2 separate regions of the Homo sapiens genome follow, and region 2 is linked to region 1. The links come from fine-mapping of genetic effects on gene expression. A gene starts in region 1. The other region holds a variant in brackets. All regions are shown on one strand. Distances are between the middles of the regions. Region 1 holds the start of EPB41L2 (erythrocyte membrane protein band 4.1 like 2). Region 2 overlaps EPB41L2 (erythrocyte membrane protein band 4.1 like 2).

The links. PIP is the estimated chance that this variant, and not a neighbour inherited with it, causes the effect.
Region 2: its variant is the best candidate, but not a certain one, in a credible set for the expression of EPB41L2 in aorta (GTEx, PIP 0.55).

The regions. Positions count from the first base shown.
Region 1 is chr6:131,060,355-131,065,737 of GRCh38, forward strand. EPB41L2 (erythrocyte membrane protein band 4.1 like 2) reads right to left here and starts at 2,891. Exons shown (of 20, transcript NM_001431.4): 1 at 2,801-2,891. LOC105378004 (a long non-coding RNA gene) reads left to right here and starts at 3,049. Exons shown (of 3, transcript XR_942993.3): 1 at 3,049-3,262. RefSeq lists silencers at 2,348-2,447, 2,788-3,127.
Region 2 is chr6:130,949,452-130,954,834 of GRCh38, forward strand. All of the region lies in intron 3 of EPB41L2 (erythrocyte membrane protein band 4.1 like 2), which reads right to left. Among named protein-coding and RNA genes, the nearest start is that of EPB41L2, 110 kb to the right of the region's middle. The variant A/G (reference allele first, on the strand shown) is at 3,291.

The DNA of each region.
Region 1 (5,383 bases):
TGTACAATATTACTAATTACAGAGAAATTGTACCAATAAATATTTTGGTTGTGGACTGCTTTGTCATCTTTGCAAGTATTTTTAGTTGAAAGCAAGTGGTTGGGTAGTACACGTGGACATGGTTCTGATTTTTAAATACCTATTTTTACATTCTGGTCACTGGTTAGGTTTTCTAAACTCAATTCCTTAGAACTAGTAATTTGGAAAGGGTAAGCCACAAGAATGTTACGTTAAGAAGCCAAGGATCTAACTAGCTCAGCAACTCAGATCAGCACAAAACTCATTTGGAAACCTCCAAGTGCTAGCATTATCTAATGATGGACCCAGGCAGTCAGTAAATCGTTAAGAACAGGTATGAAAGTGAGCAAACTGCCCTAAAGCTATCTCCTGAAAAACAGCAAGAGATATCTGAACTTCCTTCTTTTATATTTAGATGGTTATTTTTTTGGTGGCCTCTCTTCAGATTCATCCCCTAAATTAAATTTGCTTCTTTCTACTTGGACTTAAATTTCAGATTTGAAATATACACACTTAGTTGCTACAAAATGCTCCCTGGCAGTTTACATTTTTTACAAAAGTTAGGAAAAATTTTACTGAAATTATAGCTTTAACTGATTTTTTAAAATCACTTTTAATCTTTTTTAAGGATCACCATGCAACGTAGATATATGAAGAGTTCGAGGGACGTGGCTCAATTCATCCACGAATTTTCTTTCGAAGGTTTTTGCAAAAAGTGCTCTCAACTACTTGGACTAGTGGTTAAAGATTAAAGAACTGTTATGACTAAGTCTTTCTTACAGAGGGATGTTTTAAAAGGAAAGAAACCGTCCCTTCCCGTTACTCTAAATGAGCAGCCTCTTGTTCTCGGCAGTCTGTCTGCACACAAGACCACTACTGACTTCAGTGGGAATTCTGCCCAAGAAGTGAGGAAGACAGGATAGGATTAAATTAGCGCTAAATCCACACCATTGTTCCAAGCCATTACCACTTGTACAGTTCTCCAATAACCTCCAAAGAATAGATATCTGAAGTTTGATGGTGGTTCTTAAATTGAATTAAAAGAATGACCACTCGAGCTCTGACAGGTGACACAGCATAGCTCTTCAAAAGTTGTGTCAAACTCACAGCCTAACGGATGGAGCCAGTTGGCCCTTATCACAATTCAAGATTGCATTGCAATGCAGCCCCCATCAGTGGCTGCAACAGCCACCCAGTGATTTCTCACAGCAATGAGCCTGCAAAGGGAAACTGAATAGGATTAAGCACTATTCGTTCCCCCACTGAAACCTGTTCAAAGCTTGAGAATTCTAAATCCTAGCCCCTGCAGCATAGAAACTGACTCAGTTTCCCTCAACTGCTAAGTCCAAGGTGAAATCTGACAGAACACCAACTGAAATGCTAATTCTCAACAGCGTTATAAAGAGACCAGATAAATAATGTATTCCGTTGAAAAAAACAATAAAAACGTAGGGTGGGGGAGGAAATAAAGACTGAAAAACTGAGGGGAAAACCGCGAAAGTCGTTTTTTTAAAACAGCTTAAATAACAGTAACAAGAGGAACAAGACGCCTGGCACACACATGCCATTTCAGAGGCAAGAAGTTCAAGAAACTGGGGAAAGATGTGATTCAGAAAAGCGAAAATATAGCCACAGCTCCTCTAGATTCCACCTTCTCTCCCATCCACCCAGGGATCTTAAAATTAAGGGCAGCTGTGGTGTTGATGGGGCAATTCAATGAAAGACTACCCGGGTCCGTAGGGAGGGCTCCATACGCAGACCCCTCCCCAAAATAATAGACTCTAGGCAGTAGTTCTTCTCACCAAACCTCATTTTATTTATACATATATATAAAAAAAAAAACTTGACCTCAGGGGAGGTGAGCGATCTAGAGAAGCATAACTGATGTCCCACCACAGACCTCAGGCTGCTGGGGGCAGCGTCTGCGCCTGGGGATGGCGTCCCCAGACGCCGACTTCAACCCTGTCGCGCTCCTTTAGGTTCTCCTCGCCCTTCCCCGCTGCTCACCTAAAAATGCTCCCAACCCTCGGCCCCCAGGCGCAGGAGGAGAAAAAACAAGCCATCTGTGGTGAGATGGCCTGGGTGTGGGAATTGTAAGGATCGGAGCACGAAACACGCGTCCCTCTCCGCAGCTCCCAGACGGCGCAGGCGGCAGCTGGGGGCGCGGACGCGAGCCTACAGCGGGCCCGACCCGCACCGCGCGTGGGGCTGGCGCGCCGCCCTCGCCCGGCTTCCCGCAGTCCCCACGCGCGCGGCCGGCCCGCGCTTCCCCTCCTAAAACCTTCCTCCTGAAGGGCGACGCCGCGGCCGACCCCCTCCCCGCGGGGGGGATGGAGCCGGATTTTTCCCGCTGTTGCTCCACGGGGCCCGGACGCGTGACCTGAGCCCACGGCACCCCGGGGGGGACGGCGTCCTCCCCGTGCCCCCGCCTTTCCTGGCTCCGCCGGGACGCGGCCCCGGTCCCCCGGAAGAGGGAAGAGGGGGACCGCGGGGAGCAGCGAAGCCGGGATCCGGCCCGGAGCAACAGGACCCGGACCCCCGGGCAAGAATCGGGTCGGGCAGAGACCGGGAAGGAAAGGAGAGAGGGAGCCGCAGAAAATCCCAAAGCCGGGCCCCCTCTCCCCGCCCCCCATCCCGGTGGGACCGTCCCGCCACCGCTTCCTGCCCGGAATCAGCTTCCCAGCTGCAGCCAGAGGAAAAATCTGAGCCGCCCCTGCAACCCCACACTGACCAGTCGCCCGGCCCGTGCAGCCCCGCACGCCTCCTTACCCCGACGCCGTACCTCAGGAGCTCGCTCGCCGCGGGACCCGTCCCTCTTCAGTCCCAGCCGCCGGCAGCCGCGCCTGCCTCCTCCCTCCGCTAGGTTTCAAATTGAAATTCCCTGACTGGGGCCGTCAGAGGACTCTGAGGGCCGGCCCCGCCCCCTCGCGGCGGAAGCCCCTCCCGCGACCCCGCCGGACGAGCCCCCGGCGCGGAAACCCCCGCGGGCGGTCCCGCCCCCGACGCCCAGGCCCCGCCCCTGCGCGGGCGGGGGACCTTTCCCGCGGGATTCGGCAAGCGCGGCCGCGGAGACCCGGGGGTGGAGGACGTCTTTCGCCCTCAGGGCAGCCCGGATGACAGCTAATGCGCCTGGGCAAGGCGTTCTCAACTGCGATTCCCGGCCTTAAATGTCCTCTCAACTTTTAAAAGTTATTTATTCAAAGTGCATTTGCTGACTAAACCTTCACTGAGCGCCTTCCTAGAGGTAAACACTGGAGCAGAGCCTGGAGATGCAGAATAAGGAAAACTGGGTCTCCCTCAGTCTAGAGTGGAAAAAGTGCTTTCACAGGAAGGGCATTGAAAAGGAACCATTTATTCTTCCTGTGGGAGGGACAGGAGGGGTTGGGGAAACCCCGTGGAGGAAAGGCCTCCCCAGAGTAAGTAGGATTTCTCTGGGCAGAGGCCTGGGAATCTGGATTGCAGAGCATGACCACGGGTGAAGAAGAGTCTGGAAAAAACCTAGTTTGGGGCTAAATTGTGGAAAGCCACAAGCACACACACGCTACCCTTCTGGTTCTTTTCTTTTGTACAATGAGGTCAATATGTTTCAGATTCAATATATTTCATCTTTTGAAGGTTTGCACGTCAAGCTGGTGTCAAACAACGTGTCCAGCTCACTGCCTCCAGCATCTGCCTCACACGCACCTCTTATCCCTTTTACTCCTCCCACTTTTATTGAGGTCTTTAGTGATTCCACCACAGCCAAAGTCGTCTCCCTTTCTTTCCTAAACAGAACCTTTTCCAAAATTAACAATGTCAAATGAAACCTCAGTAACAATACCTTCCAGTTAACAAAATACATTCACATATTTTATCATCATTTGATCCTCACAATCACCCTATGAAAAAGGCAGGCACGTTTGAGCTCCATTACATCAAAAAGATTTGGGAAGATAAATTATTTGCCAAGGTCCTTCTAGTAAATAATACAAATAATAATAGTTAAGGTTGATTGTGTGCTTTATGTGCTAGGCATTGTTCTAAGTCCCTTACATGTATTAATTTAATCACAATCCCATATGCTAAGTATACAAGTTAAATTTTATAAGGTGTGCTAAAACAGAGCAGAAATCTGATTAGACAGCAATTCTGGTAAAGGAGACCTGGGAATTTAATGAGAAAATACTATTATTTTCTCATAATAAGAAATATGCAGCAGATTTACAACGAAACTAATGAAACAAACTTCGGGATCTCTCATTTTCACAAGCCTTGAAACTAACTTTATAATTTTGTATTTCATTTTGTGTTTTTTAAAGAGTCCCTAAAGTCATATAAGCTTTTGGGCCCATAAAACATTGAACCACCCTGATGGAGCCCCCTTTAAAATGCTAGTGCAAAATAACATAAATATAGGCATAGTTAATAAAATATAATGCCCTTCTCATAAGAAAGGATATGCTTACTATACTCTGCGTTGAAGTACATGAATCACTCCTATATGCCACCTCTTAAGAAGAAATTTTTCCCTCCAAAAGAAAATATTGATAAGCTAAATTATAACCATAAATGGGTGACCTTGAAAATGTGGGAACCAGCAAGATTTAGCCTAAAGAGATGATTAAAGGTGATAAAAAGGTTGTCAAATGTATAAAGGCTATTGTGTGAAAGAAGAATTGAACTCTGTTTTTGGACACAGCCTTACATAGCCCTGGCATTTTAATGGAATGGAACAGATTCAGTGAGGACCTAGCAGGAACTGAGGGCAGAAAAATCAAGTCCCAGAAGCTATAAGGAAGTGAAGAAAACTGATGGAAGTGGCATCATAGAGATTTAGCAAACAACAGGTGGTAGTCCAGACAACCAGGGAAGTCTAACAAGAAGAGAAGAGGGGTTTGAACAGAAAGAAGGACAAAGTCCTGGAATAGGTGACATCCAAAGACTCAGGCAGGCGGAAGCACTGTCAGGACTACCAGGCTGCAGTTCAAGGGCAGAATGTTAATCCCCAGGAAAACACTCTAGGTAGAACAAGATTGGGTCTTCCTGCTAGACACACTGTAGTAACAGGCAAAGGACTGACACAGAGAACAAGAGAAGAATATAGGTACTAGTCCTGAGAGCTACCACATCCAAATTTACCATAATAGCCTCAATCCTGGGCACTATGTGCAAGCAAAGTTAGTCTGGAAGTATGGACTAGAAATGTACCCAGGACCTCCTTAGTGCCCTTACTTACCAACTCACCCCCATAGGCGTGGCCTCTGGAAGAGCTTGATCTCACTATATCCATGAGTCATCATTTTATCTTTGTGCCTTCTGTGTGCCAAGCCCAAACCAGGTTGGAGTGGCTCTGGGTTGAGGACCTGCCCTTCCTTTACGTGGTCCA
Region 2 (5,383 bases), 110 kb before region 1:
GATAAGCTAGGCATGGTGGCATATATCTGTAGCCCCATATATTCTGGAGGCTGAGGCAAGAAGAGGGACTGCCACTGCACTCCAGTCTGGGCAACAGAGAGAGATCCTGTTGAAAAAAGAAGAAAAGGGACAGGGAAGGGAAGAGGAGGGAAGAGGAGGGGAGGGGAGGAGAGTGGAGGAGAGGGGAGACCCAAATGGGATAGGACGAGAAAATTAAAACTGAATGGTAATGAAAGCACTATATAGTTGACTCTTGAACAACACAGGTCTGAACTGCATGGATCCACTTACACCTAGATTTTCTTCCACCAAGAAACAGACAGCAAGACCAGTCCCTCCTCTTCCTCCTCCTCTTCCTCAGGCAATATGAAGACAATTAGAATGGAGACCTTAATGATAATCCACTTCCACTTAATGAATAGTAAATATATTTTCTCTCCTTCTTATTTTTTAAGAACATCTTTTCTCTACCTTATTGTTAAGAATACAGTATATAATACAACACACAAAATTGTGTTGACTGTTTACGTTATTGGAAAGGCTCCAGGCAACAGGAGACTGATTATTAGTAGTTACATGTGGGGGCAGTCAAGAGTTATATGTAAAATTTCAACTGTGCAGAAGGCTGGTACCCCTAACTCCCTCCTTGTTCAAGGGTCAACTGTATTTCAAATTTGTACAATCAATCAGAGGTACTTCAAGGGAAAATTAGAGCTATGAAAGCAATGTTTTAAGTGTTAAGAAATTAGAAAAAGCACAGTTATCCCAAAGAAAAAGAGCAAAACGAGATGAAATGTTACAAAATAGAGAAGATACAATAGAAATGATAAAACCAAGTTGTTTCCTTTGGGAAAAAATATATAATGGTAAATCTATAGTAAGAATAATTTTAAAAAGGCAAACGACACTAGAAATAAGAAATAAAAATCAAATGCACAAAACAAGAATATTATGAAAACCTTCATGCCAATAAATTTGTCAAATTAGATGAAATGGACAATCTCTACCAAAAATATTAATTGCTGTAACTAACTCGGGAAAAAAAAATTTAAAAATTTGAATCAACGATTTAAAAAAAACAAAAACTACCTTCCACTTCCACTCTTCTCCCAAAAAGGCTACCATCCAAGACAGTTTTAAAGTCAAGTTCTACCAGATCACCAAAAATAGACCAACAGTAATTTATCCAAGGCTTTTCTAGGTAATGGTAAAAGGGAAGCAACTTTATGAGGATAGAATACAACCCAGATAACAAAATCTGAGGAAGACAATTCGATAAAAGAAAATTAAAGGCAATATATGCAAAAGTCCTAAATAAAAATAATACAAAATGAATGCAGAATCATCACTACCAAGTTTACATTAGAAATTCAGATGGTTTAACAGTAGAAAATAATGTAGATTACAACATTAGCGGGTTAGAAAAATACATGATCCTCTTAGTTGATGCAAAAAATACATTTGATAAAATTCACCACCTACTCATGAGTAAGTCTAGAAACTAGGGGAGAAAGTCCTTAATCTGAGAAATAATATTTATTTTTAAAAATTTCAGAGTGATCATATAAACCTAAATAAAACATAAAAAGATGGTGAGGAGTTTGAGACCAGCCTGGCCAATGTGGTGAAACCCCGTCTCTACCAAAAATACAAAAATTAGCCAGGCATGGTGGCATGCATCTGTAATCCCAGCTACTTGGGAGGCTGAGGCAGGAAAATTGCTTGAACCCAGGAGGTGGAGGTTTCAGTGAGCCAAGATCATGCCACTGCACTCCAGCTTGGGTGACAGAGCAACTGTCTCCAAAAAAAAAGGAGGGGGAGGGGGGGAGGGGAGGAGAAAAAAGATGCTCAGCCTCAGTACTTTTTTTTTTTTTTTTTTTTTTTTTTTTTGAGACAAAAGTCTCACTCTGTCGCCCAGGCTGAAGTACAGTGGCGCAACCTTGGCTCACTGCAACCTCTGCCCCATGGAGTCAAGTGATTCTCCTGCCTCAGTCTCCCCAGTAGCTGGGATTATAGGCACTCACCACCACGCCCGGCTAAAATTTTTGTATTTTTGGTAAAGATGGAGTTTCATCATGTTGGTCAGGTTGGTCTCGAGCCCCTGACCTCAGGTCCGCCTGCCTCAGCCTCCCAAAGTGCTAGGATTACAGGCATGACCCACTGTGCCCGGCCAGCCTCATTAATTTTAATGGCAAAAACTGCAATTACTTTTGCACCAGCCTAATATAAGCTGTAGTACTGTTTTCATGGTTTTGAGTATCCTTCCCATGAGAGGATCATACTTGCCCACTATACTGTTATCAGCCTTGGCCATGAGACTTAATTGGCCAATGAAATGTGAGTTAAAGTAATATATACCACTTCCAAGCAGAAGATTCAAGAACTGTAGTATGGTTCTACCATGTTTTCTCTTCCCTTTATCATGAAACCAGCATATCCCAGGTAGAGGCTATTCTTTCAGTCTTGATCAGAAATAAAGATGGTGTGGAAAAGAGCCATAACAAACCCACCAAGCACATGTAACATGAGCAAGAAATAAACCATTTTTATTAAAAGTCGTGAAGATTTGCAGATTTTTTGGCTACTGCAACATAACCTAGTGAAAGCTGACAGTGATCAAACAAATGCAAGTTAAAATACTGAGAAGGTATTTCACATACATTTGATTGGTCCAAATTAATAAGTCTGGTAACAAGAATCACCGATGACAATGTGGCAAAATCAAACTTAATGGTTGCTGGTTGAAATGTAAATGGTCAATTTTATCAATTTCATTTATTATTTTGGCAATATCTGGGGAAACTGAAGAAGTAAAACTGGATTCCATCAATCTAGCAATTCCGCCACTAGGTATCTACCCTGAAGAAACTCTTACACAAGGAAACATGTCTTAAAATGTTCACTAAAGAACTATTTCTTATAGTATACAAAGAAACTGTGACTCAGGAGGGGAATAAACTAGTTTAGTCAAAGAAATACTATACAACAGTCTAAATGAATAGATTTATATATCACAAAAAGATACATGCAGGACAAGAAGGAAAAGATGAGAATGAGACTTTGGCAATGTCTTAAATGTTCTATTTTGTTAAAGATCTAAAACACTGTAATCCCAGCACTTGGGAGGCCAAGGTGGGCGGATCACGAGGTCAGGTGATCGAGACCATCCTGGCCATGGTGGAACCCCGTCTCTACTAAAAATACAAAAATTAGCTGGGTGTGGTGGCTCATGCCTGTAATCCCAGCTACACAGGACGCTGAGGCAGAAGAATCGCTTGAACCAGAAAGTC[A/G]GAGGATGCAGTGAGCCGAGATCGTGCCACTGCACTCCAGCCTGGGCCACAGAGCAAGACTCCATCTCAAAAAAAAAAAATCTAAAACACATGGCAAAATGGTAACAAATGATAGAAATTTTTGTGCTGGATACACAACTGTCTCCTCTATTATTTTTATATTTTTGTATTTTTAAAATATTTTATGATTTTTTTTAAAAAAGAGAACAAAGATAGATTTAAACCATAAAGTACGTTGGTCAGTCTTGTGGTTTAGTGATATAAAGAACTTCAGAAATAAAAGGGCATTCTAGATGATCTAAATAATTCTATATTCTACAGATGAAGAAACTGAGGTCTACAGAGGTTGAGCAAATGACTTAAGGTCACATTAACATCAAGTTGGTTCTCAAAAATCTACATCCCCTAATTTCTAGGATAGGTAGGAAAGACAAGGGACATGCAATCAAATATAATGTAATCAAGTTCAAAAAACCATTCTGTCCCTTTCTTTATGGTCTCTTACTCCTATCCCTAAGACCTCTCCTCTCTCCCTGGGATAGAAAGGGAGTCTCAGGAAAGGGCAAACAAAGTGTTAAAAAGAGCAGGAGAAGAAAAGAAAGCTTTAAGGACTGCCATGGTCTCAATGCTTCCCTCCAAAATTCACGCTGAAACCTAATCCCTATGGTGGTGGCATTAAGAGGTGGTGTCTTACGTGTTCTCACTCACAGGTGGGAATTGAACAATGAGAACACTTGGACACAGGAAGGGGAACATCACACACTGGGGCCTATCATGGGGTGCGCAGATGGGGGAGGGATAGCATTAGGAGATATACTTAATTTAAATGATGAGTTAATGGGTGCAGCACACCAACACGGCGCATGTATACATATGTAACAAACCTGCACATTGTGCACATGTACCCTAGAACTTAAAGTATTAAAAAAAAAACAAAAAAGAGGTGGCGTCTTTAGGAAATGACTTAATCACTCTGCCTTCATGACTGGGATTAGTGCCCCTGTAACTGAGGTTGAAGGGAGCTGCCTTGTCCTTCCATCAGGTGAGGACACAGCACTTGGCCTTTCCACCATGTGAAGATCCAGAAAGGAGGGGCCATCCTGGAAGCAGAGATCAAGCCCCTCACCAGACACCAAATTTTCTGGTGCCTTGATCTGGGACTTCCTAGCCTCCAGAGCTGTGGGCAATAAATTCATGTTGTTTTTAAATTACCCAGTTGACGGTATTTTGTTACAACAGCAAAAACTAAGACAACTAAGACAAGGATTTTTAATCCTCTTTTGCTAGTCCTTTTCTTTCTTTTTTTTTTTTTTTTTTTTTTTTTTTTTTGAGACGGAGTCTCGCTCTGTCGCCCAGGCTGGAGTGCAGTGGCGCAATCTCAGCTCACCACAAGCTCCGCCTCCCGGGTTCACGCCATTCTCCTGCCTCAGCCTCCCCAGTAGCTGGGAATACTGGCGCCCGCCACTACGCCTGGCTAATTTTTTTGTATTTTTAGTAGAGACAGGGTTTCACCATGTTAGCCAGGATGGTCTGGATCTCCTGACCTCGTGATCCGCCCGCCTTGGCCTCCCAAAGTGCTGGGATTACAGGCTTGAGCCACCGCACCCAGCCCTAAAACTTTGGGCAAGGAATTTAACTTCTCTAAGCCCTAAGTTCCCCGTTGTAACATGTAACACTGAAAATAGCAATGATAATATCTACCTTTATTGATTCTTAATCAATAAAACAAGATAATCCATTAAACAAGATAATCCATTCAAAGCACTTCACACAGTTCTTCAGCAAACATTAGCTATTAGTATACGTTACGTAAATAATTTGTGGAAAGCAACAAACTCTTCTGATTGACATAAAATTATAAGGTACTAGATGCGTTAAAAGATTAAAGTGACTTCTGTCAGCACCAGCGCTAATGAACTGTATGTTTTGCAAATCATAGATGTTTTTTAATTAAATGAAAGTAAATAAATTAGATGTTAAGCCAGTATCTGTCTCAGGATAAAACACTTGGGGCTAAGTTTACTGCTGAAACTTCTTTATTCTGAAATGTCAGCCTAGTGCTATCATTTTTCCTCAAGAAAAACATCTTCTAG